Linked DNA regions of Homo sapiens: region 1 is linked to region 2. A link means that fine-mapping ties the variant in region 2 to the expression of a gene that starts in the linked region. Tissue or cell type: whole blood. Region 2 holds a variant in brackets; the other region holds the start of a gene. Each region is shown on its reference strand, or each on the opposite one.

The links.
Region 1: ALAS2 starts here. The variant in region 2 is fine-mapped to the expression of ALAS2 in whole blood (TOPMed, PIP above 0.99).

What each region holds. Positions count from the first base shown.
Region 1 is chrX:55,029,793-55,032,701 of GRCh38, forward strand. It overlaps ALAS2 (5'-aminolevulinate synthase 2), which reads right to left and starts at 1,185. Exons shown (of 11, transcript NM_000032.5): 1 at 1,150-1,185. It also overlaps a transcript of PAGE2B not described here. RefSeq lists an enhancer at 1-1,190.
Region 2 is chr22:37,065,171-37,068,079 of GRCh38, forward strand. It overlaps TMPRSS6 (transmembrane serine protease 6), which reads right to left. Exons shown (of 18, transcript NM_001374504.1): 17 at 1,656-1,792; 18 at 266-1,068. The coding sequence ends at 910. Among named protein-coding and RNA genes, the nearest start is that of KCTD17, 15 kb to the left of the region's middle. The variant A/G (reference allele first, on the strand shown) is at 1,726.

The DNA of each region.
Region 1 (2,909 bases), not on the chromosome of region 2:
AGACCAAGTAACAGATCATTACTGAAAGTTTTTCCCTACGACTTTAAAATCCTCTCTTGTGTCAGCACCCAATCTGTACTCCCAGAGGTGAAAAGGGCCAACTGCAACTCTACCCCAGCAGACAGCCAGAAAACACTCATTGCAGCATTCCTTGTCCCCCACCCCCCCACCCCTTTTGTGGCCTGCTTTGCAAAAGTCAATTAGGTCTGGAAGGGAAGTGGTAATTTCTCTTCAGGAGTTGGAAACATCAGGCCTTACTTCTCTTCCTAGTACCCCTTTCCCACCATGAAAGAATCATACAGAACTTTAGATAACTGTAATCAGAGAATCAGAAATTCTTAGAAACAGGAAAATTTAGAAGATCACAAAATCAAAACTAGAAAGGGTGGTGGAAATTACAGGCCAAGCCTTTTTTTCAGAGAGTGAATGACTTGCCTAGGGTCTCACAGTGAATTAGGATGAGAATAGAAATCTGTTTACTTTCTGTATAGTGACACTACATTCCTCTTCCACTTTCTTCACTTATTTCTGCTAATTATTCATCTCTCAATTCCCCAAATCTCTCCTTACCCAATTCATCATTCCCATCACCCCCACATCCTCTTAGTTTCCCTCCCTAGCTCTTCCCCCACCCCTAGGCTCCCCATGGGCTCTGACCCACTGAGCTCTGCTGTCAGCCCAGCAGGTAGAGGGAGTCAAAGGGAGAGAGGAATGGGGAATTGCAGGAAGAAATATTAAGCCATCGTTCTTGATAGAGAGGAAGAGAGAGACAGAAACACAGAGACGGAGAGATACAAAGCCGAGGAAAGAGACAAAAAGGGGGAGAGAAAGAAATTTAGAGAAAAAGATAGTTAGAATTCAGAGGGAAAAATAAGAGAAAGCAAGAGTGTCAGAGAATGATGAAATGAAATGAATGATCTTGAAAACTAACAAAAGAAAGTAACGAAGGGAAAAAGAGAGAAAAAAGCTGAAAATGAGGAAAGACAGAAAGAGACATGGGAGATAAAAAGAAAATGAAAAAGAGACAGATTCTAAGAAACAAACAAAGGAAAAAGTCAGATCTACTCAGACCAGAGAGTCAGTGTGTACAGCCCTGAGAGACCAGCTGGCAGACCAGAGATAGGGTGCCAGGCTGAAAGCAGCTCTTACCTGTTGCCCTGCACTGAGGACGAACGAATGACAGGTGGGTACTTGGGTTAGGACCTGGCATTTATCCCTTCTCCTCTGACTCAGCCCCACCCACCCTGCCTTCTGCCGGCCTGGCCCTGCATTGGCCCCAAAGGTATCTCAGTCCCTTCCTTGCTAGAGATAAAACCCAAAGTAGCCCCTCCCTCTAGTGTACCCCCTCCCCCAGCTCTGGCTCTTCCCTATTTTCTTCTCTCTATAGGACAGTAAAATTAGCTCATTTGGGCTTTGGAATCAGACCATCCACATAGAGCTGGGATACCTTGAGCAAAACCACCTCTCTGACTATAGATCTCCTCAACTATAAAAGGAGGGCAATAAAACCCAGAAGTGACTGTGGCACAAGTTGGGAGGGCTCTGGAGTCAGACCTAGAATACAGTGTTGTGCTTATGAGCTCAAACAGTCAGCTTCCACAGACTAGATCCCCGGTTGTTGTAACAATTTGGTAATATCATGTATGGAAAACGCATACCACAGTGCCTGGCCCAAATAAATAACACCTACTGTTGACTGAGTGCTTACAATGCACCAGACCCTTCACTAAGTGCTTTACATGAATTAATTTAGCCACATAAGGACCTTAAAAGATAGGTACTATTATCCCTATGTTACAGATGAAGAAACTGAGGCTCAGAGAGGTGAGGTAACTTGTTGATAATTACCCAACTAGAAAGTACAGAGCCCGCCTATGAACCTAGGCAATGTAGTTACAGAACCCACACTCTTCTCTTCCTCTCATAATATACAATTAAAAATGTGAAGTTCTCTGTCTTATCTTTTCTATTACCTTCTCCTCCCTTTTTCATTTTCTTCCCCTTTTGTCACTCTCTTTTTCCCCTTCCCTTATCAATCCTAAGGCAGCAGGACCATGTTATAACCAGACAATTTCATCTTTAGAGCAGATTGTCATCATTAATATTATATTTACATAAATAAGACCATAGTCTACATATTGATTTGCAATTTCTTTTTTTTGTTTGTTTTTCATTCAACCATATGCCAATATACCATGGAGGTTACAAAATCTGAATGCACTGTAATTTATTTAAACACTCCCTTATTGATATAAATTTAGGTTATTCCCAAGGATTTTCCCCCCTCCATTATGATTAATGTTGCAATGAACATCTTTTGGCATTTGTGAGAGCATTTTTTTAGAGGGTGGCATCCTAAAATATAAGCATTCCTGGATCTAAAGGTAATAGACATTTAAAGTTTTTGATACTGCCAATTTGTCCTATACATGTGTTATACACCCCTCCCCACCCAGTGGTGTATAAGAGTAAATGTGTATCTATTTTCTCACAAACTCACCAATACCATTTGTTATTTTCAATTTTTAAAATATTTGTTAATCTTATAGGCACTAAAAATGGTATATCAGTGTTGCTTTGATTTGCTTTTCTTTCATTATTAATGAGATTGGGTGTCTTTTCATGTTTCTTTATCAGTTGTCTATTTCTCTTCTGAGTGGTCTACTTTTTGCCCATTTTGGGGGTGGGTTGGCAGTAAAATATAGTGGACTAAAAGCATGCACTCTGGAGTCAGACTCACCCAAGTCACCAAGTCACCAACACCTTAGCTATTTGGTTCACTTATCTCCAGATCTCTCATATATAAAATGGGACAGTCATAGAACCTACCCTATTGGATTATTGTGAGGATGAGATGAGAAGAACTTTGAATAATATTAATATTAACTCCTTTTCTGTGATATTTGCTG
Region 2 (2,909 bases):
TTTCCTCCTAAGGTTCCAAAAGGAGACGATTGCTCCTCACATCCCTCTGACCTGAGGGTCCCCAAATGATTGCCTTCCTGGCATTTCTTCTGGGACCTGGGCAGCTGCCCTGCAGGCCCCAGCCCTCAGTGGCCACGCCCACTGCCACTGAGCCCACCTTGGCCTTCTGGACACTTGTCAAACAGGCTGAGCAGGAAGCAGGGGCTGCTCCAGTCAAGGGCATGAGGCTGGTGCCTGGGTCCCATTCAAACTCCAGCAGCGGGGCTTGGATCAGGCAGCTTTATTCCAAAGGGCAGCTGAGCTCACCTCCCAGTGAGGGTCTGGGCTGTGAGGGCCCAGGTGGCAGGCAGGGGTGGGGCAAGGACCCTGGAGTCAGGACTTCCCCACCTTTTGGCTTACAGTGGCAGCAGGCCCACCTGGCAGTCTCCAGGGCTCTGAGGGTCCCCTCCGATGGGAGCACCTTCCATTCCCAGATCCCAAGTTAGACCAGGGGCTTCCGAAGCTGGAATCTGCTCTCTGGAGGCAAGGCTGCCCAAACAGCCTCTGTACAGAGTGGGGCGCACCTCAGACACTCCTCGGGATGTAGAACCAGCATTCTTGCTGCTGAGCCACTGCCTTGCATTAGGCAGCAGTGGAGGAAGGGGACGGAGGAGAGAGAATTGGGAGGCAGAAGGGCTGGGTGTGGGCCTGGGTCCTCAGGGGACGTCTTGACCCCCAGCTGCTGGCACTTCTCCATCCTCCTGCCATCACTGGAGCAGACATCAGGGACGAGACAAGATGCCACCTCCTGCCACCACAGGGCCTGCTCTCTCCCCCACCCCCCGCCAGAATACTTGTCCCCCTGCTTGGCAGTTGCCCTGGGCTCTCTGAGTCCAGGAGGTGGGCCCTGCTTTGCAGGGGGGCAGTTCCTCAGGTCACCACTTGCTGGATCCAGCTGATCACACCTGTGATGCGGGTGTAGACGCCGAAGTAGTTAGGCCGGCCACAGCCCAGGCCCCAGCTGACCAGCCCCGCCAGGAACCAGCGGCCACTGAGTGCCTTGCACACCAGCGGACCACCTGAGTCACCCTGAAAGGGGGAAAGGAGAAAGGACTGAAGCAGGGTAAGGGCACCCCCTTTTCCAGGTGAAGAGCCATAGGGATTAAGTCCTGACTGTTGGGAATTGACTGGGTGCCAGAGTCACGTTCAGTCTTAAAGCTCTGCTTTCCCCTCGCCTGCTAAATGGAGAGAGCCCAAGCCAGCCCTCCCCGGCCTCCAGCCAGCCTGGGACCTCCTGGAACTGTGGCTGTGTCCCCACGCCCCCACTCTGCCTCCGCCTCCCTTCTGTGGCTGACACCCCTTTCTTCTTCCATGCATCCACCTCACTGTGGGACCCTGGGCCTAGTGCCTTGTGGTGGGCAAGGAGCAGAACTGGGTTTGAGCCTAACACCTGCCCATCACAGCATCTCTTCTGATCTGTGGCTCTGCAACCTTGGGCAAGCTCCTCAACCTTTCTAAGCCCCAGTCTCCTCTTCTGTAAAGTAGGGGTGGCCATCACCACCTTGCTGGGAGGATGGGAGGCTTCAGCAGGCTGATGTGAGCAAAGGGCCAGACCCTGGTGATGTGGGCAGCATCCTTTCTCCCTCCTCTCTCCCTCCCATGCCCGGGGGACTCACCTGACAGGCATCCTTCTTGCCCTTGCGGTAGCCGGCACACAGCATGCGTGGCGTCACCTGGTAGCGATAG[A/G]CCTCGCTGCACAGGTCCTGTGGGATCAACTGCACATCCACTTTCTGCAGAGCGTTGCTGATGGGGCCTGTCCGTGGTCAAGGGCAGAAGTGAGATCTCAGGAGCCTGGAGCCCCTGTTCTCTATTCTCCCTAACATTATTCCCTTTGCATCTCAGGAGCCTACTTCTCTCCTGCTCTGCCCACCCTTACCCCTGCTAGGGTCGCACCTGCCCCTCTGCCTCCCTGTCACTTTATTCTAGCTCTTTCTCTGTGGGGTTCATGGTGACAGCCCCCGACCAAAGCCCATGTGGAGGGCCGGGCACGGTGGCTCATGCCTGTAATCCCAGCACTTTGGGAGGCTGAGGCGGACGGAACACCTGAGGTCAAGAGTTTGAGACCAGCTTGACCAACATGGAGAAACCCTGTCTGTACTAAAAATACAAAATTAGCTGGGTGTGGTGGCACATGCCTGTAATCCCAGTTACTCAGGAGGCTGAGGCAGGAGAACCGCTTGAACCCGGGAGGAGGGGGATCCGAGCCGAGATCGCGCCATTGCACTCCAGCCTGGGCAACAAGAGCGAAACTCTGTCTCAAAAAAACAAAAAAAAGAAAAAAGAAAAAAGCCCGTGTGGATGAGTGTCTTCCTCCAGCTTCTTGTCCCCCACCTCTGTCTGCTGAGGCACCTCTGGGCTCTGGCTGGCTCCTCGCTGCTCTGTTACAGCACCTGCAGATGTCTCCGAAGCCCACATCTGATCCCTTCATGGTTTCCTTAGAACTCTGCAGTGCCCCAACTCTGCAGTCTGCCCTAGCGCTTCTCCACGAGGGCTGCATATCACAGTCCCCCGGGGAGCCTTGATACGCAGTTTTTCTTGAAACTCCCCGTATGGTTCTAAGGTGCAGGTAGGAGGGAGAACTCCTGGCCTAAGATCCTTATGCTGGCCGGCAAGGCCCTGTCTGCCATTCTGGTTGCTCCTCGCCCAAGGCCCTGTCTGCCATTCTGGTTGCTCCTCGCCCAGGCACGCCTGCCCCCCACCTCAGCCCCTCTGGCAGGCTGCGGATGTTCTCACATCTTCCTGTCTTGGCACCTGTGTCTTCACCTGAATGTCTTTCCCCTTTGTCTGAATGTTGCCAACTCATCTTCCAGGCCTCAGCTTAAACAACCCTCCCCTGGAAGCCTCCCCTGACCCTAGCTGGGCAGGAGCCT